Homo sapiens: one gene and its partners. The protein of the gene in region 2 interacts with the protein of the main gene of each other region in a biochemical or structural test. Each region holds a gene or a part of one and is shown on either strand. Other genes may lie near its edges. The genes, in order: CSK, RGS16, GNAQ and GNA13.

What was found.
Region 1: of the proteins of RGS16 (region 2) and CSK, one has a biochemical effect on the other in vitro, tested with the Homo sapiens proteins (one study listed by BioGRID).
Region 3: the proteins of RGS16 (region 2) and GNAQ form a complex in vitro, tested with the Homo sapiens proteins (one study listed by BioGRID).
Region 4: the proteins of RGS16 (region 2) and GNA13 form a complex in vitro, tested with the Homo sapiens proteins (one study listed by BioGRID).

Annotation. Positions count from the first base shown.
Region 1 is NC_000015.10:74,791,573-74,799,342, forward strand, and holds part of CSK (tyrosine-protein kinase CSK), read left to right. Parts: intron 1-1,473; exon of another isoform or gene 1,474-1,676; intron 1,677-6,639; exon of another isoform or gene 6,640-6,660; 5' UTR 6,661-6,725; coding exon 6,726-6,740; intron 6,741-7,042; coding exon 7,043-7,156; intron 7,157-7,253; coding exon 7,254-7,366; intron 7,367-7,699; coding exon 7,700-7,770. UniProt on the Homo sapiens protein: Non-receptor tyrosine-protein kinase that plays an important role in the regulation of cell growth, differentiation, migration and immune response.
Region 2 is NC_000001.11:182,600,991-182,608,748, forward strand, and holds the start of RGS16 (regulator of G-protein signaling 16), read right to left. Parts: upstream 3,400-7,758; 5' UTR 3,270-3,399; coding exon 3,226-3,269; intron 2,350-3,225; coding exon 2,239-2,349; intron 1,495-2,238; coding exon 1,430-1,494; intron 1,143-1,429; coding exon 976-1,142; intron 1-975. UniProt on the Homo sapiens protein: Regulates G protein-coupled receptor signaling cascades. Inhibits signal transduction by increasing the GTPase activity of G protein alpha subunits, thereby driving them into their inactive GDP-bound form.
Region 3 is NC_000009.12:77,720,274-77,728,043, forward strand, and holds part of GNAQ (guanine nucleotide-binding protein G(q) subunit alpha), read right to left. Parts: intron 1,241-7,770; coding exon 1,050-1,240; 3' UTR 1-1,049.
Region 4 is NC_000017.11:65,052,971-65,060,770, forward strand, and holds the start of GNA13 (guanine nucleotide-binding protein subunit alpha-13), read right to left. Parts: upstream 3,771-7,800; 5' UTR 3,624-3,770; coding exon 3,341-3,623; intron 2,805-3,340; exon of another isoform or gene 2,623-2,804; intron 759-2,622; coding exon 532-758; intron 1-531. UniProt on the Homo sapiens protein: Guanine nucleotide-binding proteins (G proteins) are involved as modulators or transducers in various transmembrane signaling systems.

The DNA of each region.
Region 1 (7,770 bases), on a different chromosome or scaffold from region 2:
GTGATTTTTATAGCTGTCCCCCCGACCACCCCTTGATATAGAATTCAATTCAAGATCATTTATTGAATCTTGTCATGTTTCTCTAGTGTCCTGTTCAATCTAGAACATTCTCCAGCCCTTTTTTTGTTTTGCTCTTTTATGACATTGACATGAAGAGTCCGGGCCAGTTGTTCTGGATTTGTCTGATTGCTTCTCCCTGGTTGGAGTCAGGTGGAACAGCTCTGGCAGGAACGCCCCCCCGGGCAATGCAGAGTCCTCCTCCAGGAGGCACTTAGTGTCCATGCGTCACCTTGCTGGTGATGCTTCACTGGATCACTTGGTTCCGGGGTTGTCCGCACGTCTCCCTGTAGTGCAGGTGCTCCTTCCTGTTTCCAATTAGCCTGTGGGATGGGACTTGGAAGCTGTGTCTGTTCTGCTCCCCTGGCAACTTTTTCTTCAATGACTTGAGCTGGTGTTTTGCCATTTTCCATACTCTATCATGGGGAGTGTTCAGTATCGGCATCTAGAGATCTCCCCTGGCCCCATCACAGCTAGAGCTATGCTGTCCCCTTTCAGGGACATCTTGTAATTTATCCACCCAGCCCCCAACTGATGGACATAAAGGCTGTCTCCCCATCATCTCCTGCTACTACAGACAGCACTGCAGGGACTGTCCTGCTGTGTTTTTTTAAGGCATGGGTACTCCAGAAGCAGTTGCTCAGCTGCACCCCCAAGGTTGAGTGGAAGTCCCTCGGTAAAGGAGGAGGAGAGAGTGTGAAGGGAATGGCAAGGCGGGGAGGGAGACAGGGCACAGGTGTCCTGGCAACAGCAGATGGGAAACAGGTCTGGCTAAGGTACCAGAAGCCAACAAGTCCCAGAAAGGTCAAGTGACTTTCCCAAGGTCACACAGCAAGTTGATGGCAGAGCTGGGTACAGGACTCAGAGCATCTGACACCCAGGACGATGTTCCTGCACTGTTCCATAGAGTAGCCCGACTCTTAAGTTTAAATAACCCCAGGAAGGACCCCCTCTCTGTGCCTGACCCCCGCTGGGTTGTAGAGGCCTAAGTTTGCAGTAGCTCCTCCCAGCCACTCTGGCTGTCAGCCTCTGACCTGCAGTGGGAGGGTCTCACCTTCTGGAGATGTTTTAAGGAGGGGACCCCGGCCTAGGCACTAGCTGGGAAGCCACTGAGCCATCTTGTCTGCGGCCACTGACGTCAGTGCTTGGGCACAATGCCAGCCTGTTCCCGGGACCCCAGCACAAGGGCTACTGGGAGCCGGGTTTGGGGCAGGAAGTCAGCGTGAAGCACTGGTCCTGCCACATCCCAAGCCCCTTGTCCCCTAGCTCTGTGGGGGTGGGGTGACAGCTGCTATCGCTTTGGGGTTAACTATAGTCCCTTTGGGGTTAACTATAGTCCCATTGGTTATGGGACCTCAGTGTGATGTAGCCAGGCTGGATTCCCCCTTTTGTTTGTTCATTTATTCATTCATTCAGGGGTCTCATGACCCCACCAGGGAGGAGCCGTCCAAGAGAGTTAGCAGCTCCCACTTGCAAGATGTCTGTGGCAAGGCAGGCACTGTTCTGGTGCTGAGAGCTCAACTCCAGTCCTCACAGCAGCCCCCAGAGCCAAGGAGTATCACCAGTCCATTGCACAGATGGGGAAGCTGGGTTCTAGAGTCACAGCCAGCAGAGTAAAGGTGATGAGTTTAGCCCTCTTCCCTGTTTCCAGACCCTCTGAGGCCTTCAGAGCCCAGCTCCTTGAGGCAGCCCACCCCGACCGCTCCTAGGCTTACCCTTCCCTGAGCACCGCCCCTGTGCCCCTCATAGCTGCTTCTGCCTCCTCCCTCCTCCCTCCTCTCCCTTGCCCCTAGGCTAGTGTGGTCCCCATGGCAACTCCTGGGGCCTGTCCGGCAGGGAGGCACGGGGCTATGGGGAGGGCTGGCTCAGCAGCTCAGGAGTTTGACACCTGAGGGGGACAGAATGCTCACTCAAGGTGTGGCCCTAGGGACCCCCGCCTTGCCCCTGTGGGCCTCACTTGGGGTTCTCATCTGCAAAATGGGGATAATAATAGCTTCTCTGTCTCAGAGTTGTTAGAGGATGTGATGAGCCATAACGTGCCAAGGACAGGGCCTGGCACAGAATAAGTGCTCAGAAAACAGGGCCTGTTATTATTTTTATTATTATAATCAAGGCAGTGGGGAGGCGGCGGTGGCAGTAGCTGTAGGCCAGGAAGGGAGTGTTTGCAAACTGACAGCTGGAAGGGTGACTAACAGCGCAGCAGCCTCCGCGCCCCCCTGTGGTGGCAGGGAGTTTGGGGAGGAAGGGGGAGGCATGGGGATGTGGAATGCTAGCAGGGCCCCTATTCAGAAGGACCTAAAGGTTGGGGGCCCAGCCAGCCCTAGTGGGACCCTAATTCAAGCTCTGTCACCCCTAACTAGCTATGTGACTTCAGGCAAATTGTTCAACCAGTTGAGCCTCAGTTTCCGCTTCTGTGAAATGGGGGTAAGAGGGTTAGAAGAGCTCACAATCCTCCTTCCCTCCCCGCCACCCCCACCCCCACAGCTTACAGTCCACAGGAGGCAGGGGCAAGGGGTCCTCACCACCCCCACCCTCACAGCTTACAGTCCACAGGAGGCAGGGGCAAGGGGTCCCCGCCACCCCCACCCTCACAGCTTACAGTCCACAGGAGGCAGGGGCAAGGGGTCCCCGCCACCCCCACCCCCACAGCTTACAGTCCACAGGAGGCAGGGGTAAGGGGTCCCCGCCACCCCCACCCCCACAGCTTACAGTCCACAGGAGGCAGGGGCAAGGGGTCCCCGCCACCCCCACCCTCACAGCTTACAGTCCACAGGAGGCAGGGGCAAGGGATGGTTCCTGTACTTAGTGGTGACTGAGTCATGTGGATGGAGGCAGGTTTCAGGCTCATCCTCCTTGGGCCTCAGTGTCCCTGCCTAAACAGCAGGATTGATGGCCTGGCCTCTGGGGATAGAAAGGGCCCTGTATTCTGGGAGGAACGGAAGCTCTTTCATCCAGGGGATGGGGCAGGGGCGCACCAGACATTTCCAAGTTCAGGGTTTCATTCCAGCCCCTCCTCAGCCAGCTTGCAGGAGATACCTGTCCTCCCCTTCAGGGTAAGCAAGACTTAGAAGGGTTGAGTCACTCACCCCAAGTCGCACAGTCAACAGAGCCAGGTATTAAGCCCAGGCCTGACTATAGAGCCAGGTGTGCGGCCTGGAAGTGTTGGTTCTCCCTGGCCGTCTCCTCCCCAGCTCCTTCTGCTCTCCATGATCACATGCCCCCCTGCTGAGGCCCCATCGCCCTTGGAGTCAAACCCTGGTTCCTCACATTGGCAGTGGAAGTCCCCCTGCTGCCTGGCAGAGTTTATGCCAGGCCCACTTGAAACCATCCCCTACAGTGTCCCCTGAGCAGCGGTGCTCAAGGTGGACTCTGGAAGTGTGTGGGGTCCTAGAGCCCCAGATGGGCAGGGTCTGCCTTCCCGCTTCCCTCACCATCGGCTTCCACCTGGGCCAGTTTCTCATACTATGCCAGTCCCCTGCCTGACACCTTTGCTCAGACTGCTGCATCAACCTGGGGTGCCTTCCCTGGCCCGCCCTCTGCCTGTGTAAGCCCTGCAATCTTCAGGGCTCAGCCCCAGAGCTCCCTCCTCCAGGGAGCCTGTCTGAGCTCTGCAGTCCGTGCCTACTTCACACCCCCAGCACTTTGCACTAAAATGTCTTCTCCCGCGCCACTGCACTCCAGCCTGGGCAACAGAGCAAGACTCCGTCGCAATAATAACAATAATAATAAAATAAAATGTCTCCTTCCACTGGGGTAGGTAGCAATATTTGTGACTGTCAGCCTAGCCCCCAGACCTCATCCACTGTATCAAAGAGCCCAGCAAAGAGGCTCATGGAGGAGTTTCTCTTCTAACACACTGTGACCACGAAGATGCCACTGGCCCTTTCTCACCCTCAGTTTCCTCACCCGTAGAAAGGAAACAGTAGTTCCAGCCCCTCTGCTTCCTGAGACAGGTCCAAGGGGGCTCTGGGCTGGGATTACAAAGTATGTGTGTGCAGACGGGTGGGTTGCTGCTCTCAGGGAATGGGGTTGGCTAGGGTAGCTTTTTTGGGGAGTCAACTTTATTGAAGTAAATATACGGTTGACCCTTGAACAACACAGGGGTTGAGGGCATCAACCTCCTCCCTGCAGTCAAAAAATCATATATTAACTTTTGACTCCTCAAAAACTTAACTACTAATAGCCTATTGTTGTCAGAAAGCCTTGTAGATAAAGTTGATTGACACTCATTTTGTTTGTTATATATATTATATACTGTATTCTTACAATAAAGTAAGCTAGTGAAAATAAAATAAGAAAATCATATGGCCGGGTGCAGTGGCTCACACCTGTAATCTCAGCACATTGGGAGGCTGGGGCAGGCGGATCACTTGAGGCCAGGAGTTCAAGACCAGCATGGCCAATATGGTGAAACCCTGTATCTACTAAAAATACAAAAATTGGTCTGCTGTGTTGGCGCACGCCTATGATCCCAGCTACTCAGGTGGTCAAGGCATGAGAATCACTTGAACCTGGGAGGCGGAGGTAGTTGCAGTAAGCCGTGAGTCACCCCACCACTGCGTTCCAGCCTGGGCGACAGAGTCTTGCTGTCTCAAAAAAAAAAAGAAAGAAAATCATAAGGAAGAGGAAATATATCTACTATTCTTTAAGTCGAAGGGGATCATTATGAAGGTCTTCATCCTTCACATTGAGTAGGCTGAGGAGGAAGAGGAAGAGTTGGTCTTGCCGTCACAGAGGTGGCAGAGGTGGAGGCGGAGGAGGTGGAAAGGAAGGCAGAAAAGGCAGGCACACTCAGTGTAACTTACTGAAAAACATCCAGCCACGTGTGGTGGCGCATGCCTGTGGTAATCGCTACTTAGGAGGCTGAGGCAGGAGGATTGGCTGAACCCAGGGGTTTGAGGCTGCTGTGAGCTATGATCACGTCACTGCACTCCTGCCTGGGCAACAGAGTGAGACCCTTTCTCAAAAAAAAAAAAAAAAGAAAAGAAAAAGAAAAAATCCATGTGTAACTGGACCTGCGCAGTTCAGACCCGAGTTGTTCAAGTGTGCACTATACACCAAAAAGTGTGCCGATCGCAATGGTACAGCTCAGTGAATTGTCACAGAGTGGACCCACTTCATGATTGGGCTCAGACAGTCTGAAAACCAACCCCAGAGGTCCCCTTGCATTCCTTCCAGTCTCCCTGTCCCAAGAGCAGCTATCCTGACAGCATGGATTAGTTTGGCCAGATTTTGAACTTTATTCAAATGGAATTACATAATATGTACTTTCCTGTGTCTGGCTTCTTGGTTAACATTTTATTTATTTATTTATTTATTCATTCATTTAGAGGCAGGGTCTCACTCTGTCGCCCAGGCTGGAGTGCAGTGGTGTGACCTTGGCTCACTGTAGCCTTGACCTCCCCAGGCTCAAGCGATCCTCCCACCTCAGCCTCCTGAGTAGCTGGGAGTACAAGCACGCAGTACCACCCCCGGCTAATTTTTGTATCTTTAGTAGAGACCGGGTTTCGCCATGTTGCCGAGACTGGTCTTGAACTCCTCCTGGGTTTAAGCCATCTGTCTGCCTCAGCTTCCCAAAGTGCTGAGATTACAGGTGTGAGCCACTGTGCCTAGCCATCATTATGTTTTGAAATTTATCGGGATTGGCCAGGCACGGTGACTGGCACCTGTAATCCCAGCATTTTGGGAGGCCGAGGTGGGTGGATCACCTGAGGTCAGGAGTTCGAGACCAGCCTGGCCAACATGGTGAAACCCCATCTCTACTGAAAATACAAAAATTAGCTGGTTGTGGTGGTGCATGCCTGTAATCCCAGCTACTCAGGAGGTGGAGGTTGCAATGAGCCGAGATTGTGCTACTGCACTCCAGCCTGGGTGACAGAGCCAGACTCCATCTCAAAAAAAGAAAAGAAAAGAAATTCATCAGTGTTATTTAATGGTTGGAGTTTGTGTTGGAGTTTATTTAATGGTTGGTGTTTACTGCTGTACGTAGTCCCTTTTGTGAATATGCCACTGTTTATCCATTTTCCTCTGGATCGGCATCTGGGCAGCTCCCAGTTTGAGGTTTATTACAAAGCATGCCACTTGTAGCCCTCCTGTGCCTGTCTAGGCAGACACATGTCCTGTGTCCTCTCGGTGTGTACCTAGAAGTGGGGTTGGTATATGTTTAGAGATGCTACCTGGGCGGGATTTTGCAGGTGAAGGACCCAAGGACCCACAGAGCATAAGGGACTTTCTCAGATCACATAGCCCCTTCTCAGAGCTGCTCCGGGGCCCCTTTCCCCACAGAACAGTAGCTGGAACCAGGCCTGGGGCTGACGGTCAGGTGTCCATTGTCCCACTAGCCCCCTTTGCTCCTTTCTATCAGTCCTGGAAGGCCCCCTGTGGCCTTAGGGTTGGTGGCTCCCTCTGCCCCTGGGGGTCCTCAGCCCTCATGCTCCTCTACCCAGTACCGTCAGCCTGCCAGGACTGGAGAGAATGGCCCATGTGTCAAATCCCAGCGCAGGACACTCTTGGCACCTGTTCATGCCCAGTGAGGAGCCAGATCTCAGCAGTTGGGGGGCATTTCTTCACACCCCTCCTCAGTCTTCATGCTCTTCCCCACAGCTCTAATGGTACCAAGTGACAGGTTGGCTTTACTGTGACTCGGGGACGCCAGAGCTCCTGAGAAGATGTCAGCAATACAGGTACCACAGGGGTGAGGGTCTGGGACATGCAAGCATTCCCACCAGCCCCAGCGGGGTGCTTAGCAGAGGAGAGAGGATGCAGCTTAGATCAACCCACTCCCCTTTTTCCCAGCACTCAGTCAGGTACAGGCCTGGGGAAGTGGGGGAGTCTCAACAGGAAGGGACCCAGGGCTCGTTCTCCGGGCAGAGCACCTCACCCAGGCTCACAGAGGCCAGCTCAGAGGCTGTGACCACGAGGGTGCGCCAGCAGGTGGCTGGAGGGGGCCCAGGCTGCACCCGCCCACGTGTCACCTGCCTTGCAGGCCGCCTGGCCATCCGGTACAGAATGTATTGCCAAGTACAACTTCCACGGCACTGCCGAGCAGGACCTGCCCTTCTGCAAAGGAGACGTGCTCACCATTGTGGCCGTCACCAAGGTAATCAGGTGACGCCCACCCCACCATCCCACTGCTGGGCCTTCCCTCTGCAGGGGGAGGTGGGCCTGAGAGCATGTCTGGGCTGCCCTCTCCCCAGGACCCCAACTGGTACAAAGCCAAAAACAAGGTGGGCCGTGAGGGCATCATCCCAGCCAACTACGTCCAGAAGCGGGAGGGCGTGAAGGCGGGTACCAAACTCAGCCTCATGCCGTGAGTACCACGAGGAGGGGTTGGGGAGGGAAGGGGCCTTGGTCCTCCTGAAGGAGCATCAGGAGCAAGCAGGGAGGCCAGAGTGAGGGGCTTGGGTGTTGGGGAGGGCCTCAGGAGGAGGTGCAGGGTGCGGGTGCGGGACCTCACAGAGCAGGGCTGGGGGCAGAGGCAGGAGGGTGGCAAAGAAGGGACAGGGAGCAGAAGAAGAGGGCCTCAAATGCCTGACTGAGCGAGTGCGAGCCACGGGTGCCAAGCAGAGGGAACCCCTTCAGAAAGGGGAGCCAGGGTCAGTACCTTTGGGCCACCATGACCTCCAGCCCTGCTGCTCCCCAGTTGGTTCCACGGCAAGATCACACGGGAGCAGGCTGAGCGGCTTCTGTACCCGCCGGAGACAGGCCTGTTCC
Region 2 (7,758 bases):
CCCAAGCCCACACCTGGCCATCCTCCTCATGCCTGACCTCATCTCCTGCTCTTGCCCTGCTCTACACAGGTCCATTTGCTCATCCGTGACTGTGACAGGCAGGCTCTGGCCATTGCATTTGCTGCTTCCTGTGTTGGAATGTTCTTCCCTCCCTGAATTCTTTCTTATCTCTGTTCATATGTCCTCACTTCCCTTTACAGAATGGAAAACCTTACGTCTTCCCAGGCCCTACCTCTGGTACTCCCTGTCTCTCATTTCCTGCTGTATTTTTATGAGTGCATAGCTCATCACCTGGCATATATTTGTCTAGTTGGTTATTGGCATCTTCCCCCATTCAAATTATAAGTTTCATTAGGTAAGGGACTTTGTGTGGCTCACTGTGACATACACAGTGACTGTAACAGTGTCTTGAATATAATTGGGGCTCAATACACCTTTACAGAATTATGTGGAATCAATCAGCGGTCAGAAAACAAAAATAAGGTACAAAAGTAAGGCATTACTCTTATCTTTCCACCAGGTGGCGCTGTGTTCTTTAGCAAATGCAGCTGCCATGCGTTTAGCGGCCAGGAGAGAAGGTAGACAAAAAAATCACAGACCACAGACCAGCAGGCCTCAGGCAGGTCAGCCTGGGGACTGAGCCAGGTTACATAAGGTCCCTGTGCTGACCTTGTCTCCCCAGTTGCTAAGTGTTTTGAGCCTCTAAAAACGGATGGGTTTATAAAGGTGGGTATGGACAGAAGCCGAAAAACCTGCCAACACATCCTGCCCCATCATGAGTCTTAGGGTTAAGCACCCAGGAGTGGCACTGGGCCTGGCTTTCCTAGTCTCTGGTCACAGAAGCCCAGTCACCCCTGTGCCAAGTAAGGCCCTTCTACCTCTACACCTAGCCCTTCCTCCCCTCTAGCCCTGATTCTCAGAGGGGAAGGAGCAGGCAGGGTCGTGAGGATTCACTGGGCATATGGGGGCTCTAACCTCTTTAGGGGCCTCACTGCAAATGAACTCCTCAAAGATCTGGTGTGCCCTGGAGGCCAGCTTGGTAGCTGATCGGATCTTCTTGAACTCCTCACAGGCCAGCCAGAACTCCAGGTTCTCCTCACTGAACTCTGTCTTCAGGAAAGCGTGGAAGGCAGCCACTCCATCTGGGGTTGCGGGAAAGAAGAGGAAATAGGTCAGCTGGAGGGACAGCAGGGAATACAAGAAGAAAGGAAAGCAATTGCAATTAATGGCTCTATTTTTAGAACATAATTTTCTTGAACAATGACCTGCCTTTATATGTTGAATAGAGGCTGGCACACTAGGGGATCATTATTATTATTATTACTACTACTATTATTCTGCCCAGGCTCTCAGCAGTCCTGGGGCTGGCTCCAAAGCACATGAGTACACATGTGCCACCCAGAGACAGACACAAAAGGCTCCTACTCACTTTTACTGCTCAGCAGCAGGTCGAACGACTCTCTCCACCCCAGCACATCTTCTGAGAAGTTTCTACTAAAAGACAAAAAGAAAAAAAAAGAGTAAGAAAAAAAATCAACAAACCAAAGCATAGTACAAATTCTAGCCAGAACTCTGATGGAAAACTGCATAAAATTCACAGAAAGGCTTGCTTGGTGATTGCTGAAGCTGACACCTCAAACTCTTAGTTGGACTTAGGGTAAGCAGTAGTGCTTTCTAGAGCACAATTCAGCAACCAGAAATCAAAGCCAGGGACTCTTTAGTCCTCAGTCAATATCTCTAAGCCTGTCTCGTCTCTGTCCAAAAATTATTTCAATTCCCCTGACTCTCAAAGATTTGTTTTGTACACCTTCCCAAGGAAATAAGGTCCTCATAAATAGAGATTACATCTACACATAACTCCAGAGTTTGGTACAGTTGATAGCCAATATGAAAGAGTTTCTAGGCAAGGTGCATACTAGAAAACTTCAAGTGGTCTTGGATTCTGTCCTAGCCCTGGATGCACGTGCAATGAATCCCGAGGTGGGAGAGTCTGGGAACTAGGCATTCATGCCCTGTGTGCCCTCATCCGTGGATGGACTTGGAGCCCTGGAGCCACCTACCCACTCACCCATGAGCCAAGTAGTCATAACAGACCAGCAACAAGTCCCACTAAAATCTCTAGGGAGGTGTTGCCAAGGTCCACTTAGCGTGTCCTGGCTTCTCCCTGTATTTCCCTCCTCATGACTCCCTTCCCACTCCCTTCCCTCTCGGAGCCCTGAGCTGGTCAGCAACACTTACTTCTCTTTGCTGTGTTTACTGCCCCACTCGAACTTGCCAGTACTCCCAGTATCGCAGCCCAGCTCTGATTTGTGAAGAAAGATCCCCAGACGTGTCTTGAACTCTTTGGCTCTGAAAAACAAATCAGGAACATGAAAGCATTCTCTCATTTGCTCAGCCAGTGTGGAGAGGTTTATGGGTCCCAGAAGAGCTCTGGGTGGTGCCACCCAAACTTTAGCCTCAAGAGTTCCTGGAAACTCTTGGCTGTCCCCAGGCCAAGAGTGCTTCTCTTATCAGCATCATCAACCCCAAAGCAACAAAAGCAATGTTTGAGCTATGCTGTGGTAGGTCTTACACTTTCTGGGTAATACACACGCTGCATATATGGGCTTTTCCCTAAAGTCACACTGATCTCTCTTCGTGCCTGTTGATTCAGAAAAGAACTCAGCATTCTTTTCAGAAGTATTTCTGAACTGTGTGGGAAACTGATTCCTGCCTTCATCTTTACTTTTTCCTTCCCAGCCAGTAAGGATTGGAAGCTGTTGAGTAGCTCTCTGGAATATGGACACACCCTCAACAGTGGGAGCCCCCACCCCCACACACCCCACCAAAAAAAAAAAAATCTCCCTGTCTTCCAGGGGCAGAGGAGGCAATGCCCCTAGCTCTGGTCTGAGGAATGAAAAACAAATGCTTAAGAAATGGGCAGGCTCAGTGCTGCCTGGAAATGTCAACGTGGCCTTCCCGCAGCCGGGTCTTCAGCAGGTCACCTGAGCACGACTGCAGTTTGTCAGAGGATGGGGATGGCAGCAAGCCGCGGGCCCTTGCTTCCCTTCCCCTTGCTTTCTCCCTGCTCCTGGAATCTGAGCACGTGGCATCAAGTGCGCTTCTACCTCTCTACTCAAGCCTCTAGCGCCCCATCCCCGCGCCCACCCAGGTCCCCAGGCCTGCCGCTCCACTCCCTAAGAGTTGGTGGGACTTCCCCCAAGCAGTTGGACAACCTCCCCTTACCTCTCCAGGCAGGTGGTGGGGAAGGCGGCCAGGGTGCGGCACATGGCTGCGGGCGCAGGGCAGCACGTAGTAGGCAGGATGGTGGCAGGCTCCAGGAGGCTCCGCGTGCGCCAGGAAGCAAAGGCGCGGTAGCAGGTGCTAGTCAACTGCGGTTGGGTTTAGCAGCCTGCAAGCGCCCAGACTGAGCGGCCGCTGCTTTAAATCCCCTCGGAGGAGCGGGGCGGGGCTGGGCACTGCTGACCAATCGGAGGGTGGGGCTGGGCGCTGAGAAGGCGGAGGCGGGGCCCGCAGCCAGACTGGGCCGGGTGCAACTTTCGCGGCAGCTGGAGCACGCGGAGCTGCACCCTCCGCCCAGAGGACGCCGCGTGTGGAAGGAAAAGCGGCAAGAGAATTGGCACGGGGATGAGACGTGCACACCCAGTTTCCTAGGGAAAAGTACCTGCCGACCTCTAGTAACAGCAGGAAAGTCACGCAGCGGTGTCGTGTTGAGAGAGTTTGCACGGGGGTGGTGGGTCTGGGAGGCACACAGGGCTTTCTTTGATCGCAGGCAAGTCTGAGCCTGCTGGGTCCTGAGGACAGGCGCACAGGGTGCAAACCTGGGCAAAACAGCATCTGATTATACTGATAAGTACCCTTTACGAGGCTCTTACCATGATGGACACGGGGCTAAGTAAGCTCTTCATCATCATCTCCATTTTATAGATGAAGAAATCGAGAATCAGAAAGCTAAATAAACTTGTCCAAGATCACAGTTGGAGATGACAGAAAAGTGGAATAGGGATGAGTAGTTTATTGAACACCTACTATGTGCTAGGCACATAAGTAAGACTTGCTCAAAGTCTTAGTTATTAAATAACTTGCTCAAAGATGTGCAGCTAGTAAGTGTTGGCTCCAAAATTCAAATGTGAATTTGCCATTCTTTTTCCATTGCACACACACACACACACACACACACACACACCACACACACACACAAAGGTTAGTACCCGGTCACGGCTATACCTGTGGACGATCCTGGGTTTAAGCAGTTAATACCTTATTGTCTCCATCTCTGACATAAAGGTAATAAATGCCCTTCCTCTCACCTCATCTTCCCATAAAGGCATTGGGATTGCTATTAAGAGGCTGTATGTGAGGTTAAAAGTACAGGGTCTAGAGTTAGATTTTCAGGTTTCAAGTCATGGCTCTGCCAGGTGACCTGCTGAAGACCCAGCTGCAGGAAGGCCACGTTCACTGTTAACTGGCTACTGATGGGAGACGAGGCAAACTGCTTAACCTTTCTATGCCTCCATTTCCTTGTCTCTACGAAGAGAACAACTTATTTCATAAGGTGGTTGTGAGAACTAAATAAATTAATTCTTAGTTTGAGTTCCTAGGAACTAGACTCGGGTAGACACTTGCATGCAGGAGGTTTACTGGGGAGAGTTATCAGAATTAAGAGGGAGTAAAGAAAGCAGGTCTGGGCAGAGGGAGGAGTTGAAGGCCATGCCATTTCAACAGAGACCCCAGCTGGTTCCAAGGAATGCCCGGAAGCTCAGCTGGCCCTTTGGAACTGTCCACTGAAGCAAGAGGACAAGGCCCTGGTAACCCCATAAAGACCATTCATTGCATACAGCTGCCCAAGAAGACAGCCTAATCTTAAGGCAGTGCCCTTTGTCAAGAGCAATTCCTGGAGAGAGACTAACACCCTGGGAAATGATGATCACAGTCCCCAAGACGGGATCTGGGTGGCACCGCACAGCATCCGTGACAACATATAAGGTGCTTATATGACAGTGCTCAACATGTAGTCAGCAGTCAATAAATGTTATAATAGCTTTCAGTTTTACTTAATAGGGATACTGGGATTGCTAGCAATAAGGAAAATTAGTGAGTCTTTTGTGCCTCTTGGAATACAGTATAGGCAGTGTATACTGAGGCACTCTTAGTTAAGTACACCTGAGGCACTCTTAGTTAAGTGTACTGGAACAGGAAATAGCTGGAAATTGGATCCTATCTCCCAATTCCTGAGCTAGTACTTTCTCCTGCTCTGATAAAGAAAGCAAAATAAACGGTGCCAGGAGCAGTGGCTCACGCCTGTAATCCCAGAACTTTGGGAGGCTGAGGCGGGCAGATCACCTGAGGTCAGGAGTTCGAGACCAGCCTGGCCAACATGGCGAAACCCAGTCGCTACTAAAAATACAAAAACATACCCAGGCATGGTGGTGGGTGCCTGTAATCCCAGCTACTTGGGAGGCTGAGGCAGGAGAATCTCTTGAACCCAGGAGGTAGAGGTTGCAGTAAGCCGAGATCGCGCCATTGCAAAAAAAACAAAGGCATTGATGCACAGTGCACAGACCAGCAAATCTGAGAGCACAAAGCTCCCTACTCTAGATGAACGGCCCTCTCCAAGTTCAACCTGCCTCTTTGTTGCCATGGTTACCTCTTCAGTTTCCAGGCAGAAACTTTTTGAAGTTCACAATTTATCCCAAATTATCTTCCCAGCAGGTCGGTTCATATCTGCAGTTTCGGTAATGCAGGATGACTCGACAGTTGCTGTAAATCCAGCAAGTTGAGCTCACTTATGAATTGCACTGGCTTGGACAAAACCTGACCTCATTTTTGCCCAGCACTCCCAGAGCAGATGTGATCTCTTTAATGGATGGCAGCATGGGGGCACGGCTCTGCACCCTGGGTCATCTGGGGTCAGCAGTCTGGGCAAAGCCGTAGTCAAGATTAAATGTCCCACAGCATCCCAGCCATATTGCCTTTCATCTCCTTCAGCTCCCAGCCCCCAGCACTACCCTTTCCATGGAGGCAGAAGTCTAGATGGGGATCTTTGTCTACTGATAATGGTAAGCAGAAATGAGAACTCTTCCTCCATTTTTCTGATTTAGCTCAGATGATCCTCACAGTGGTTTAGGTCCTCCAAATTCAATCATCAATCTACAAATACATATTTCTTATGAATTTACTATATTCCCAAGTTGGTGGGAAAACAATAGCTTTTAAGGCTCTTCCCTGAATTCAAGGACCTTATAATCTAGCTAAGGAAATAGAACTGCATGGTGGGGAGCAGGGAAAGTGAAAGGAAACTATTGTTTGTCACAGAAACAGATGTCAAGGGAAGAGGCTGATTAGAGACGGTTGACAGTATTGAAAAAGAAGTGATGGAGCCATGGTAGCCAGTGAAAAGCAGAAGAAGTAGGAGGAGGCATGAAAGTGAAAGAAACAGGAAAAGCTCTTATCATTTGCAGGTACAGCAAAGGTGCAGAAAGACTAAGGAATTTATTAAATGCTGCAGAAGCACTTAGGGTTGTGGGACACAATTGGATGCCACTTTTAGATTTAAGAGCGTATCCTGAAGCAGCTGAATGAGGAGGCAGTGATCATCTCCAGCAGAAGTGAAATAGGCAATCACTGGGGACATTTCCCCACTGGTTCATGACAAAAACTTTGGGCACCCTCTCCTCCTGGGTAGGAGAAGTTGACCAAATTCAGCCTGGTTGTAGGAAATGACTTTTACTATGATTAATGATTACTGTTTAGGGTATTGCATGCAGCTTGCTTTGCTGCTATATTAGTCCTCTCTGGTTTCTTCTTTTCCCTCCCTCCCCACTTCTCCCAAACCTAGACTTGGAGGATGACGTCTAGACTCCTCTGTAAGGCATCTAAGGCTCTAACCACTTGGTCTCATATCCTTTATACACCCTAAATTCCAGCCAAACTCAGCAATTGGCACATTATCCTGGGCATCATGCTGCCTTATACCCACAAACCCTTGAGCATAAAATTCTCTTGGCCTGAAGGTCCTTCCCCTTCCTGTACTACTCAGTTAAAAAAATATTTTTCAATAAACTGATTTTACTTATATATTGAGATACAATTACATATAATAAAATGCACAAATCTTAAGAGTACAATTCAATGAGTTTTGACAAATGTATACACCCATGTAACCAATATGTAATCAAGCTATGGCTTCCATCACTCCTCATGCCTGCTCCAGCAAATTTCTCCCCTAAACAGAGGTGACCACTAGCCTAAGTCCTAGAACCATACATTGGTATTGACTTTTCTTGACTTTTCTACCTATTTTTGAGACCTAGCTCAACTGCCTTCTATTCTATCATACCATCCCTAATTCCTCCTCCCTCCCCGCATCTGCAAGCAGAGTTGGCCAGGCCTCCTTTGAGCCATCCCTGTTGCCCTGTACTGATAGAATCAATGTACAGTCTGTTTCCTCTGTGCACTCCTGGAGGGCAGGGACTATTGCCTTGGTCATCTTTTTTTATCTTCAGCCCCTATCACCATGCTCAGTTCTGCATATGTTCCATAAATGTTGGCTGGGTAGATGGCTTCTGTTTCAACACAAATAATAAAAGCTAACATTTATCGAACACTTACTATGTGCCAGGCTCTGTTCTGTGTGCTTTGACTTGAAGTATCTCTTTCAATGCTCACAATTACACTCATAAGATCAGTAATATATTTTCCCCATTTTACATTTGAGTAAACTCTGTTTACGTTGAGTAAACAGAGATTGGTTAAGTA
Region 3 (7,770 bases), on a different chromosome or scaffold from region 2:
TTTATTTTTTAAGTTCGTATTCATTTTATTTGACAAAAAGCCAGCTTTGGCAACACATACCCATAATAAAAGTCATTTTAAAATCGTGGCCCAAACACCAAGAAAAAAAAGAAAGGAAAAGCTTGAACAACAACAACAAAAAAATTAAGAACAACCTATAAAAAGGTTCTGGGTAGCAGCCATTAGGGTAATGTAGTGTCTGTTGGCATCTTTTTTGGCATCTGCAATTGAAAGAGAGGGTAAGAAAAAGAAGCAAAGAAGGGAGGAAAGACAATGGCACGTGGCATTTCAAAAGAAAGGACTCCTGTGTGTCTTTGATCCTGCCTTCTGCATATTTCTCTGAGCAATCAAGCTATGGCTGAAGGTAAACATCTAAAAGAAATGACACTTAACTTTTAGATGGGCATCCACTGTCCCAGTCCAAAGTGAGACAAGACAGTATATTCTATTAAAAAAGAAACTATGTGTGTATCCAAAGCAACACATTTAAAACCGTAAGTATTAATACATATAATCCTTCAGCAAAAACTACAAACTTAAATTAAGCTGATGATGGCTTAAATCGAACGATGTGTCCTGACTGTATCATTTGAGAGAAAAACTTGACCAAGAATGGAACTAGGATAAAGGCCATTGTAACCTGGGAAAAACATCAGGAGGGAGGTATGAATTAGCGGGGGAAGAAAAAAGGGAAATCAGCTTTGTTTTGCTCCATAGAAAAGAAAAAGAGAGAGAGACAGAAAGAAACAAGTCTTATCTTTGTGAGTGCATGACTGAGAATTTAAAATACACTGAGTCACAAGGTTTTGCCTAAAAAAAAGATAGAGAGGAAATGTGCTGGGACTGTACTTCAGCATCCTCTGTTTTTCCTCTGAATAGTTTAAATAAAATCATAATATTTACTACAAACTCTGTGGACACGCTCACACAGAGTCCAGGACGGCAATAAATTAGTATTATGCAAATTGTTTTCCACAGAAATACAGTCCCTCTTGTGTATCTTCAATAGCCCACCAGGGAAGGGCAGGGCGGGTGTCTAGGAGGCACAATTAGACCAGATTGTACTCCTTCAGGTTCAACTGGAGGATGGTGTCCTTGACGGCAGCAAAGACAAAGCGGATATTCTCGGTGTCTGTGGCGCACGTGAAGTGGGAGTAGATAATTTTGTCACTGTCTGGGTTCAGGTCCACGAACATCTTCAGAATGAATTCTCGGGCTGCCTGGGCATCTCTCTGGGGTCCTTTCGGCCAAGAGACAAGAGGGACACTTTGTTACCTAATCTGCTAATGTATTCAATCATCATTGGTTCAATAAATACTGTGTCATTGCTCATGAAGCCTACATCTGCACTGCAGATTTGATCTGTTATAATCATTTTCCCTAACACTGCTATGTCTGACCATCCATCCACCCACCCAGGCACCCACCCATTCACAAAATGTGGATAGGTGAAAGCAGACAGATGACTTGAAAGCCAAGGCTAAGTTTATTTCTTAGCTTGGCCTTCACTCTGATTCCCTGAGTGATTGGGAGCCACTGTAGGCTCTTCATCAGGGGAGTGATAGCTTACTTCTGTTCAACTGAGTTAAGTATGCTTGTTTCAGCTATATAATAAGTGTGCACAAAGATACAGCTGCCTCGGGCTCTCCTGTCAATCTGTCCTCCAAACGACCCAATATTATGGATCATTTTACATCTTCCAGACTGACATCTCTCTTAGAACACCTGTTTGTAAGGTCAGGTCTATCTACAATGGGCCTCTGTAACAGTCTCACTTCCATAGATTTCTGGTATTTCTGAGCACACTACATTTGTGTAGCATTCAGTTCATGTGTGATGATAAAACAATTGGTTTATATTTTCTTTTCTTTTTTTTTTTTTGAGATGGAGTCTCATTCTGTTGCCCAGGTAAGAGTGCAGTGATAAGATCTCAGCTCACTGCAACCTCTGCCTCCCAGGTTCAAGCGATTCTCTTGCCTCAGCCTCCTGAGCAGCTGGGATTACTGGTGCCTGCCATCATGCTTGGCTAATTTTTATATTTTTAGTAGAGACAAGGTTTTGCCATGTTGGCCAGGCTGTTCTCAAACTCCTAATCTCAGGTGATCCACCCGCCTTGGCCTCCCAAAGTGCTGGGATTACAGGTGTGAGCCACTGTGCCCAACCTATATTTTCTTACATTGATTTAAGAAGGAGTCTCTTATGTACCAAGAATTCTCCTAGATGCTTTGAAAAAGGATTGTGACATATCTAGCAAGATAAACTAAAAATGTAATTTTGCAATGGATTCTTAGATATGACACCACAGCACAGGTCATATTTTTCACAAAAGAAAAAATAAATTGGACTTCATCAAAATTAAAAACTTTATGTATCTAAGGACTTTTTTTTTTTTTTTTTTTTTGAGACAGGGTCTTGCTCTGCTACCCAGGCTACAGTGTAGTGGAATGATCATGGCTCACTGCAGCCTCAACCTTCTGGGTTCAAGTGATCCTCTTGCCTCAGCCTCCTGAATAGCTGAAACTATAGGTGCCACCAAGCCTGGCTAATTTTTAAACTTTTTGTAAAGATGGGGGTATCACTATGTTGTCTTGAACTTCTGGCCTCAAGCAGTCCTCCCACTTCAGCCTCCCAAAGTGCTGGGATTATAAGCATGAGCTACCACACCTGGCCAAGGCCATTATTAAGAAAGTGAAAAGCCAATCTATAGAATGGGAGAAAATATTTACAAATCATGTCATCTGATAGGCGTTTAGTGTCCAGAATATATAAAGAGCTCCTACAATTCAATAACAAAAAACCCAATTAAAAAATAGGCAAAAGACTTGAACAGACATTTTTCTAAAGAAGATATACAAATGGTCAATAAGCACAGGAAAAGATGCTCAATAATGGTAATCATTTAGAAAAATGCATATCAAAACCACAGTGACAGACCTCTCCACATCTACTAGCATGGCTATAAAATTAACAAGGGTTTGGGAAAATATGGAGAGATTTGTACTCTTGTGCACTGTTGGGAATGTACAAAGGTGCAGCTGCTGTGAAAACAGTTTGGTGGTTCCTCAAAAAGCTAAACATAGAATAACCATATGACCGACCCTGCTAGTCTACTCCAATGTATATATCTAAAGGAATTGAGAGCAGGGGCTCTGATAGACACTTGATCTTAGTCAAAAGGGCAAGAAGCAATGTACATCAATTTTAATAGCAGCATTGTTAACAACAGCTAAAAGGCGAAAACAATCCAAGTGTCCATCAACAGATACATGGAGAAACAAAACCAAACCAAACAGAATATCAGAATATCAGAAACAAAAAGAATATTATTCAGCCATAAAAAAGAGTAAAGCTCTGACAGATGCTGTAATATGCATGAACTGTGAGAACATTATAATAAATAAACCCAACATAAAATAACAAATATTGTATGCTTGCACACATATGACGTACTTAGAATTGGTAAACTCATAAAGACAGAAAGTAGATTAGAGGTTTCCAAGGGTTAGGGGGAGGAAGGAAATGGGGTGTTGCTGCTTAATTGGGGTGGTGAAAATATTTTGAAAATACTGGTGATGGCTGCACAGTATTGTGAGTGTAATTAATGCCTTTTATGAATTGTGCACTTAAAAATGTTAAAATGGCAAATTTTATAATTAAAAAAAGTACTATATCAAAACCCACTGAATTGTACACTTTAAATAAGTGAATTACATGGTATATAAATAATCTCAATAAAGCTGTTTTAAAAGTGTATTTAATAGGTACCGATAGATATATTAACTTAAAACTTACTGTAAATAACATCAAAACACCATCACCTTTCAAGTATTGGATACGTATCATATATCTGTCTTTGTGTTGCTTTATATATGCATTTCCTCCTATTTTTTCAAGTTAGTTCTATACCAAGCAATAAGAAACTTTTTTTTTTCCTTGAGACAGAGTTTCACTGTGTTGCCCAGGCTGGAGTGCAGTGCCATGATCTTGGCTCACTGCAACCTCCACCTCCTGGGTTCAAGCGAAATCTCCTGCCTCAGCCTCGTGGGTAGCTGGGACTACAGGCGTGCACCACCATGCCCAGCTAATTTTTGTATTTTTAGAAGAGAAGAGACAGGGTTTTGCCATGTTGACCAGGCTGGTCTTCAACTCCTGGCCTCAAGGGATCCGCCCACCTTGGCCTCCCAAAGTGCTGAGATTACAGGCGTGAGCCACCACACCCAGCAGGTTTTTTTCTATCATCAATATTCTTGTTACCTACTAGTAGGGATAAAGAGATCTTGCAGAACTCTATTGAGGGCTTGACCACCATTTCTAACAAAATGCACCCTGAGCTTCAGACAGCTGACTTGAATTATTCTCAAACCAACCTTTTTATAAATTGGAGATTACTCCAATAAACTTATATCTGATAATGCCAGAAGATGGGAGGAAAGAATTATAAAAACAAATAGACTATCCTCATTTGTACAATTTAAAAAAGTAATGTTGAATTTTTGATGTAGGTGCCCAGAATTCAATTTTTTTAATGACTAAGAGGGCTGGCATCATATTTAATAGATAAAAAGTACAATTAAAAACAATATGTAAAGTATATATACAAGCAAATATATATATAATTAATGTTCCATCTTTTTCAATGTACTATTAACTCCAGAGAAGTAATAAAAACTATTCAAAACCAGAAAGTAACAGATTACCAGAGCTGGAGAAGTCTCTCATTTCATAAAAAGAACATTATATTTCTGGCTTCTGAATGAACTTCTGTATGATTTTGTACTTACTCTATTTGGGAAGGAAGGGACTATACCTTTTTTTTTTCTTTTTTATTTACCCTACAGAATATAAGAACTAGATCCAAGTTCACTGAAGTGTACTTGAAAAGTGTTATGTTTTTAAGCATAAATTGTTATCTGAATAAACATACACTACAAAGAACTCATTACAGCCATCACAGCAGGAGCAGAATTCCACAGTCTCTATGAACAATCTTGCAATTCAAGTCCATGTGGAAAGGGTAATTTCCTTTCTTGAAGAGAAATACAGAAATGGCATTCATTATGATTAAGACCTTGTAAGTATAGAAATGTGGAAGTGTGAAATTTATAATACTATAAACATGCTTATTACAAAAACATCACTGCAGAGTGGGCCTCAATTTTTTCAGTGTTTGCTCATCTTACAAGGGCTTGGAGTTTCACGTAATGACTGCTGCGCTGGCTTTGTAATAACAAAATCAATGTCTTTTTTCTTTTTCTGTGGCCAAGTTTCCTCTGTGCATTATATGTATACTGGGGTAAGGTAACAGTAAAAAAAAAAAAAAAAAAAAAAAAAAGTCTTCAGATTTCAGAATATTCACAATGGGCACATGCTGGAAGGAAAATGCTTGTAGTGGTGGGGAATCTGGGGAAATTATTGGAGAAAGGAGGTACGTGAAGAGATTAGGAAGATGGTGCAGAGATCAAAAAACAGCACTGCAAGCACTGATCACAAACTAAGTCTTTTATTGCGGAAAAATCAGCAACTGTGAAGTGTGGCTAGGTATGCTGCATCTGAGAAGTTTGAATGAACCCCTCAGAAGGGTTCACCTCCGTGGGCACCATGCTCTATCTGTTCTGCATCCTCCCTTATGCAAGCACATCATGAAAACGTGCCAGCCCACAAGATGGGGTGTTGTGTATGGTGTGGCAATTTCTCACACGCTGATTCTTACCAAGTTCCAAGAAAAATTAAGAAGAACCTCGAGTGTGTGTGTGTGTGTGGCAGGCAAGCGTGTTTAGATCTAAGCCAGATGTTTCATGCCTACTGTATTCAGGTAGATGTGTTTGAAGCTTGAGGTGGGAAAGCAAGTTAACTACCCACACAGTCACTTCCTTCCATAGTTTTCTGAGCAACACTGAGAAGTGCAGTCTCAGGCATTGATGATTTGTTTCCGGGCTAGTGCAAATTAAAAGGAGTGAAAGAGAAAACACTGTTTAGACTGAGAAAGTGTTTTTCAAAGAACAGCAAAGCACAAAGGAAAATGTACTTGAAGAGAGGATATGAACACAATGCTAACAAAAGGTACCATTTCTAACATCTGGTGACATCCACAAATGTTTATATTTTCAATTCACCAACCTTCAGGATCTTACATGTATTTGAGAAGGGAACTTCAATTCATTTAACATGTAACATTTCCCTTTCATGAGCCAGGACTGTACCACATTCCATGTGGGATGAAAAGATGACTAAACCTCCATCCCTGATGTGTTTGTATCATCATAGAAAGCTATGAAGCTAAATTTAATCTTGGTTTTTAAAGTAATTACTTTTCTGAGGAAGCTTTTAGTAAGTACAAAAACACTGTGGAATGATATCCATCCTGGATATCATATGTTGACAATGTAATTTTAAAAATAGTCTCTTCTCTTGTTGTTATATCACCTCTATGGTAGATACTTTTGGGTTTCTGCTATGTGATATATGTATGATTCCATTCAATTCTTTCTTGCCCAGGGATAAACTGAGTAGCTAAATAAATTTGTCTGAGGCAACACAGACAGTGAGTGGCAAAGTGGAACTTTTCAGAGCTTGTGCTCTTAACTATCTAGACCACGGCTTGGCAAACTTTCTCTGTAAAGGGCCACAGAGTAATTGAGGCTTTGCAAACAATTCTATCTCTGTCACAATTATCCAATTCTGCTGTTATGGTGTGAAAGCAGCCATAGACAGTGTATAATGAATGGGTGTGGCTATGTCTCAATAAAACTTTATTCATAAAACCAGGTGGTGGGCCATAAGGGAGAGATGTGATTATCTTGCCAAATAAATAAACTTTTTTTTTTTTTTTTTTGAGACAGGGTCTCCCATCACCCAGGCAGGAGTATAGTGGCAGGATCATGGCTCATTGCAGTCTTGACCTCTTGCCAACTCCTGCCTCATTTTTTATAGATAGAGGTCTCGTTACATTGCCCAGGCTGGGCTTGAACTCCTGTGCTCAAGTGATCCTCTCACCTCAGTCTCCCAAAGTGCTGGGATTACAGGTGTGAATCACCACACCTGGCCACATAGACTCTTATAGGGCAGCAGTCGTGACTCTCACTTGTTTTACATAGTGGCTACATGTGGATGCATTTTGTTACCAATCACCAAGTGTTCAAGTGTTTCTCAGAATGGGTTGGGTGTCTAGTTGTCCAGGATTTCACAGTCTAGTTGGGGAGGGTAAGATCCTTTTCTAAGAACAAAGCAAATAATGCAGAGCCATAGGAGTAGTGAAGTGGATGCTATAGATTCTAAGTGCTGCACAAAGAGCTTAACACTGGGTTACTATTAGTAATGGTGGTGGGACTTCATTGGGCTATGAAGTTTCAAAAAAGGAAGTATTTCCTGAGTATTCATAAGTGTCCTACGTGTCAGGCATCATGCTAAACGTACACATATGTTATATACTACAGTGCACAAAACAATCCTATGAGTTTGGTCGTAAGGCCCAGAAAAATCAAGTGACTTGATGGTAGTTCTACAAATAGGAAGTGTCAGAACTGGGATCTCAACCTTGATAGACTGATTTCAGTGGTGGGCTCTTAACTTCAAAATTGTGTTCCTCCCCAGAGAGAGGAGAGGCAGAGGTGGACGGTAACCAAATGAAAGGGAGACACAGAGGGGACTATAAGAGTTAATACACAATTGGTCAAAACTACTGGATTGTTCCTTTTTCTGATCTGCTATTTCAAAGCAGATGAGTTTCTTTTCTTTTTTTTTTAGACAGAGTCTTGCTCTGTTGCCAGGCTG
Region 4 (7,800 bases), on a different chromosome or scaffold from region 2:
GGGCCAAGATCACACCACTGCACTCCAGCCTGGGCAACAGAGACTCCGTCTCAAAACAAACCCCCCAAAAACAAAAAAACAAATTTCTGAGGCTATAATTTTGGATAGATACATTAAATTATGGAAGTCAGTGAAAAAAGTGTGCTAAAATCAGATACAGGTTGAGTGTCCCTTATCCGAATGCCTGGGACCAGAAGTGTTTTGGATTTTGAATTTTTTCAGATTTTTGAAATATCTGCATACATATGAGATATGCTGGGAATGGGACTCAAGTCTAAACTAGAAATTCATTTATGTTTCATATATACCTTAAGATATGTAGCCTAAAGGTAATTTTATACACTATTTTTACACGTAGTCATTAGAGACTAGGACACATTAGGTCTGTGCCTTAGCCTTTCAGTCTGTTCCTCCATCTCAAATACTTTTAGATTTGGGAACATTTCGAATTTTCGCATTAGGGATGTGCAACCTGTATTACTAAACATCATTAAAATAAAACCACACGTTTTAAAAGAGCAAATCTCTTACCAGTTGAAATTCTCGACGCCGGTCATAGGCATTCTGTATGCCGCTGTCTGCCCATAATGCTCTTATAGCAGGAAGATATTGTAAGAAAACCCTTGTTTCCACCATTCCTTGGGCTGCCATGGGGGCCCGGGTATCAAACGACATCATCTTATCTCCATGTTGTTGGTTTGAGTTGTCTCCCCAGGGAATATGAAGCTTCTCTCGAGCATCAACCAGCACCCTCATACCTTTGTTTAAAAAGAAGAAAAAAAATGTATGGAGAGGAGTCATTACATATTATCATAAGTTTTTATTCCAGTATTATTTCCTTATACTTCTGAATTAACCTAGACAAACCTTCTTCAAAAATGAAGACCAACATCGAAAACAAATGTAACTTCTCAGAGGTTAAAAAAAATAACAGTTGCTCACTGTCTTAAAATTAGAGCCTTGAAAAGCAAATACTATTAGCACAATTCCTCTCTCTGAAGGATTTTTAACATGTTCCAATTTATAAAATAACTTCTAGGATAGAAGGTAGTCAAAAAACAATCTAACTCAAGAAAGAAAAAGAAGTTATGCTGCACAGACCAACAATGTCCAAGCTCAGAAGAAAACAGACACAACCAAGGTTTTATGAGCCTAAAAGATGTTCATTTATGAAACACTAAGAACCAACTACTATAGCTCCATGTTCTGTTTGTTGCTTCGGCACCCTAACCCAACATTGAGTCTTCTAGCAACACATTCAAAATTTAAAAACTTCTTCCAGCCCAAGTTTCAATCCAGTTTAAGTTACAGGATGGCCTTCAATTTCCCTAAAAGGGAGGAAGATCAACTGCAAAATAATACAAAGTCGGACTCCAACTCACAGAGGTTAGTTGAAACTCATTTTTCCTATCACTGATCTATTACTTTTATTAAGTTTGATCAATCTGAACAGTCACTTGGCTATTAGGAAGTCATCTGAATAACTGAAAAACGGGTGGGGTTTTTTTGTTTTTGTTTTTTAATAGAGACGAGGTCTGGCTATGTAGCCCAGCTGGTCTGGAACTCCTGGGCTCAAGCCATCCTCCCACTTTGGCCTCCCAAAGTGCTGGGATTGCAGGAGTGAGCCACCACGCCCAGCCTGAGAAACTGTTCTACTGTCAAATTTCATGTCAACTTGAAAAAACTAGATTCCTGATGACTTACATCATCTCATAATCAATGCTCAACGTAGATCACACTTACAACTCAGTGTACATTAAGAACGAGGTGTTTACCAGGCTCACAGTCAGTTAACATGTTGATGCTATTCATTAACATAATTCCTTAAGTTCAGCTGCATCAGGTTACAAAGGTACCTTCAATTAAGGACTGTCAAGGCAGAGTCTGCAGCCTTGAAAGAGACCTTAATTAGTTTTGAGCTAAACATTACAGCAGGATAAATACAACTGTTCTTTATAGTTTAACTGCAGAGGTACTAGGGCTAGAGCTGGCTGTGGTCTAGTGATTCTCTCTAATTCATTACTCCATAATGCCTGGCTCTTCAGGCAGTTTTCCTTTACCCAAACGCTGGAAGCTCGGGAGGCGGTTGGCGGGGAGGGGGCGGGGGGGTGACATGCAGAAGTCCCTTATGTACTTCCTGAACAAAAATCCCACTTAAAAAGACCTGCAATCTGTAGCAAACTCCTAAACTGCTCCCCAGATAAAATAAAATCCAGATGCACCTGAGTTACCAGGCGCTGCACCTAAATTTTGCCAAAATGCCTTTTCTATAGAACATACTTGACACGCAGAAACGAGTGTTAATTATCTTTCAAATGACAAAATAAAAACCATCTTTTCGATTTCTTTGAATGCCCAGAAATAAACAACTTGTTTATTTTTCACTTAAGAACAAAGTTTAATTTTAAAACTACTGTCAATAAAGAGCCGAGCCAATTATCTAACTCAACACTCATTCATTGTCTCCATCTGTACAGGATCCACATGACTTTTAGGCCAGTCTTCTTACTACTACATTTCATCTAAATAGAAGCAGTGGTACTCCCTTCCTGCCAGCCCCCAGTTACTTAGCGAAAAGGAGAGTGGAACGTGTTGCACAGAAATCACACGCAAACATCCTACCTGACCGTGACACTGGGGCGAAAAAGCACAGATGCTACATTTTCATGCTAACTGTATGGGTCCACTCTCTCCTGATTCCAGTACAGTCAACCTGACACTCCTCAAGTTTCATATTCTCGCCCAAAAGGAGGCTGTCACCCTACGCCCTTGACAAGAAGTCTCGGGCAAAAAGTTCCCTTATTGCGACGGTTCCAGAACTCGCTTGCTTAGGAGACGGCCAAGGAAGCAGGGAGTTGGGAGCGCATGCGACCCCATGTGACTCGGGTCACCCAGCCAGGGTAGCGAGGTTCGGCCCACATCGCCCGAGCAGGGGATGGGGGTGAAGCGGCTAGGGCTGCTATTGGTGTTCCTGCCTCATCCGCAGCGGGGAGGACAGGAGAGGTCTGCCCACACCCCGAGGCAGCACCCAGCTCGCCCCACTTCCCTCTCGCAGGGGGAGAGACCAGGACGCGGTGGGGGGTGGGGGAATGGCCGTGACGCCCACCGGGGAGACAAGCGGGAGAGCAGGGCGACCCCGAGCATCCTCTCGCCCTGGGGCGCGAGGGCACCCCGGGCGGGCAGGGCCAGTTGCCGGGGCGCGCCCCCTTCCCGCCAGCCCGCCCGCCGGGCCCGTTCCTTCGCCAGCGACACAGCGGACCAGGGCGGTGCCCCGCCCCGCACCCGCCGCCGCCCCAGCCCCCCTGCCCTTAACCCCCGGCCCCCATTCCCGGCCCGGCACCTTTGATCACGTTGCTGTAGATGGTGGGGCGGAACTCCTCGCGCGCGCGCTGGTCGAAGTCCTGCCCGTGGATGATCCGCATCTGCTTCAGGAAGGTGGACTTGCCGCTCTCGCCCGCGCCCAGCAGCAGGATCTTCACCAGCCGCTTCACATAGGTCTTTTCCCGAGACAGGCATTTGTCGATCTCCTTGGACTTGCGTTGCTGCTCGGCCTCGCCACTCGTCAGCAGGCAGCCGGGGAAGCACACGGACAGCACGGACCGCGACGGCAGGAAGTCCGCCATCTTGCCGCCGCCGCCGCCGCCTCGGCGGGCCCCTCCGGCTCCCTCCACCTCCTCCTCCGGCGGCGGGCGGCTCCGGCACCGAGGCTCGAGGGCGGGGAGCGCGGCGGCGGCCCGAGCGCGCCCAGGGAGGGAGGGAACCAGCGAACTGACTCGCAGGGCGGGCCGGGCAGGGCGGGCCAGGACAGCGGGGGAGGGAGGGAGGGAAGGAGGGCGGGCCCGGCCCCGGAGGGGCGGTGGCCCCGGAGCGTGCGCGCTCCCGCTGCCTCCCGGAGGCGCGCTCGCACGCCGCGGCCGCTTCTCCGCCTCCCGCCCTGGGCGGCGAGTCACGAGCTCGATGTGTCGCTCGGGTGCCCGCGCCCGCAGCCGCGGCCGGGCGCGCGGGGAGGGCTGAGGAACCGCGGTCACGTGGGCCAGGCTGGGGAGCCCGACTTTCTGTTTCCCTTTCATGGCCTGAGCCCACTTGTGGGCAGAAGGGCTCCTTCCCCAAGGCCGGGAGGCCGGAGACCAGGTCCCGGACGCGGTTCTTTGGGCTCCCACTTAGCCTCCCTTTCTCCCGCGTTGCGCGCCCGCTGCCCGCTGTCACCGCCCACCCGACCCATTTCGAGGCCACGGACTCGAAAGTTATTCGAACAGAACAGCCGGCGTGAGCCTGGCAGGCCTTTGGTGCATTTTCTTTATTTCATTTTATTTTTTCTCTTTTGAGACGGAGTCTCACCCTGTCGCCCAGGCTGGAGTGCATTGGCTCGATCTCGACTCACTGCAACCTCCGCCTCCCAGGTTCAAGCCATCCTTCCGCCTCAGCCTCCCGAGTAGCTGGGAGTACAGGCGTGTGCCATCATACCCGGCTAAATTTTTTGTATTTATTTTTAGATACAGGGGCTCCCCCCTATGTTGCCCAGGCTGGTCTCGAACTCCTGAGCTCAAGCGATCCTCTAGCCTCGGCCTCCCACAGTGCGGGGATTCCAGACAGAGCCACCAGGCCCAGGCCTGGTGTGTTTTCTTAAAGTGACTCCCTTGACCTTCTAGTCTCCGAATCCCAGAACGGTAACCAGACGTCGTCCACCCCCACTTCCAGCTCTTTCTGGCATTTTCAGACCCCTACCAGGGCTCTCTGTGAGGGGAAAGAACTGGAGTTGATGTTCACTTGAGACGTGCTACCAGGGGCATTTAATGGCTCACTCGTGCATTCCACCTGGGCTGTGATGTGACTTCAGGGACGCTTGGCCGCGCCGGAATTAGCGAGTGGCAGCAGGAGGGTGAGGTCATGGTGAAAATCCCCTACACCGGACACTGTGATGTAGGCTCTTCCCAACAAGGAAGCAGATACACAAACACAACGAGGAATGGGAGCACGCAAATTTTAGCTTTCCTGCCAGATTACAGAGGATATGACCCGTCCAGGGACTTTTTTTCTGTCCTAACAGCAGATTCAGGCCAGGACACCTGAAAGGAGGCCAGGAGACAAGCCACAAGTGACAGCTGTGGGTTGGCAGAGAAACTGCTTAACCGGGACCCCCGAGAGCCGACCTCTTCATTCTTAGTATTTAGTTTCAAGTGGAAAAAGCCACTTTGGTCTGTCCCTGTTTTGGGCAATGCAACGTAGCTTTGGGCTCCTGTGGCTCAGAAACTTCGTATGTATAAGGGAGCGGAGGTAAGAGGTCAGCATTCCAAGAAACTCCCGAACAGGTTTAAATTTTAAAATCGGTACTAATCAGTTACTCCCTGGGGTTGGGTTAATGACCGAGAAGCCTCGACTCAGTAGATTGGCTGCAGTAAACAATGCCTGTAGTAGGATTATCTCCTGTGGCTCTGGCAAGCCCAGAGGGTGGACAACCTACAATATACAAGTAGAGTAGGCTCACCTCCAATATCTGTGGATTGATAAGAGTCAGAATCACTGAGCAGTGCTGTCAGGCAAAATATATGGTAAAAGCCTGCCCTGGATGGAGAATTTTTCCATCATCTCATCTAGTGTTTGGGAGGCCCTGTTCTCTAACCATGCAAGGACTCGCCTCTCCCAGGATTGGGGCATAGAACCTGTCCCCGAGCACTGTTTCTGCATTGACCCCAGGTGCTAATCTGAACTCCAACAAAGAGGAGAGAAACTTGTAAGTTAGGTAGTTAACATCTTTTTTCAGAAGTGTGTGTAATATAATGGAAAACCAAGAATGCCTAGGAGGCAGGAAGGTATTCCTGCCCAGCCAGTTCATGTCGTGACATGCAGAGCAGCAGAGAAAGCTGTTTAAAGCCCTGCGTGTAAGCTTGCCTTGGAACAAACTTGGCTCACATCAAGTCTGGCTGTTCTAGTCAGTGTAGTTTTTAAAAAGAGACCTCTTTGACCTGAAAGTCAAATGAAGGAAGAAGAAGAAGAAGGAGGAAGGAGGAAGGAAGAAAGAAAGAAAAAGAAGGCCGGGCACAGTAGCTCATGCCTGTAATCCCAGCACTTTGGGAGGCTGATGCAGGCAGATGACTTGAGCCCAGGAGTTCGAGACCAGCCTGGCCAACATGGCGAAACTTCATCTCTACTAAAAATACAAAAATTAGTGGGGAGTGGTGGTGGGCGCTTGTAGTCCCAGCTACTCGGGAGGCTGAGGCAGGAGAATTGCTTGAACGTGGGAGGCGGAGGTTGCAGTGAGCCGAGATCAGGCCACTGCACTCCAGCATGGGTGACAGAGTGAGACTCTCTGTCTCAAAAAAAAAAAAAAAGAAAAAGAATGAATGAATGAAAGAAAGAAAAAGAGACCTCTTTGGGTCCAACCTAGGGGTTTGGCTGCAGCTGTCCAGCTTCTTCTAACTGGTGATCAAGACACCTTGTAAATTGTAAACATAAAAATGAGTTAGAGACTTGGTGGTTTCTCAAAGAGGTGAACATAGAATTGCCATATGACCCAGTAATTTTATCCTGGGTATACCCCCCAAAATACTAAAAAGAATTGAAAACAGTGTTCAAACAAAAACTTGTATACCCACGTTCATGGCAGCACCATTTATGGTAGCCAAGAGATTAGCCGGCTGCAGTGGTTCACGCCTGTAATCCAAACACTTAAGCCAGGAGTTTAAGAGCAGCCTGGGCAACATGGTGAAACCCTGTCTACAAAAAAATATATAAAAAGTAGGGGAAGGCGGTGTGCACCTGTGGTCCTAGCTACTCAGAAGGCTGAGGTGGGAAAATCGCTTGAGTCCAGGAAGCGGAGGCTGCAGTGAGCCAAAATTGCACCACTGCACTTCAGCCTGGGGAACAGAGCCAGACCCTGTCTCAAAAAAAAAAAAAAAAAAATAGCCAGATGTGGTGGCACATAGCTGTAGTTCTAGCTACTCAGGAGGCTGAGGCAGGAAGATTGCTTAAATGCAGGAGCTCAAGGCTACAGTGAGCTATGATCATGCCACTGAACTCTAAGTCTGTGTGACAGAGTGAGACCCTATCTCTAAAAAACAAGACACAAAGAGGGGAACAACAGACACTGGGACCTACTTGAGGGTGGAAGGCAGGAGGAGGGAGAGGATTAAAAAAAAAATACCTGGTCGGGTGCAGTGGTTCACACCTGTAATCCCAGCACTTTTCGGAGGCCGAGGCGGGCGGATCACCTGAGGTCAGGAGTTTGAGACCAGCCTGGCCAATATGATGAAACCCCATCTCTACTAAAAATACCAAAAATTAGGCGGGCATGGTGGCACGCGCCTGTAATCCCAGCTCCTCAGGAGGCTGAGACAGGAGAATTGTTTGAACCTGGGAGGCGGAGGTTGCAGTGAGCCGAGATCACGCCATTGCACTCTAGCCTGGGCAGCAAGAGCGAAACTCCGTCTCAAAAACCAAAACAAAACGAAACAAAACAAAAAACATATCGCATACTATACTTATTACCTGAGTGACTAAATAATCTGTACACCAAACTCGAGATGAGCAGTTTACCTGTATAACAAACCTGCATATGTACTCCTAAACCTAAAATAAAAGTTAAAAAAACCCACAACAACAAAAAAGGAATAGCCAAAAGGTGTCCAAATGTCCATCGATGAACGAATGGATAAACCAAATGTCGCATATCTATACATTGCAATTATTCAGCCATAAAAAGGAATGAGGTGCTGACACATGCTGCAACATGAATGAACTTTGAAAATACTAGGCAAAGTGAAACAAAAGGCCCCATATTATAAGGTTCCACTTATGTGAAAT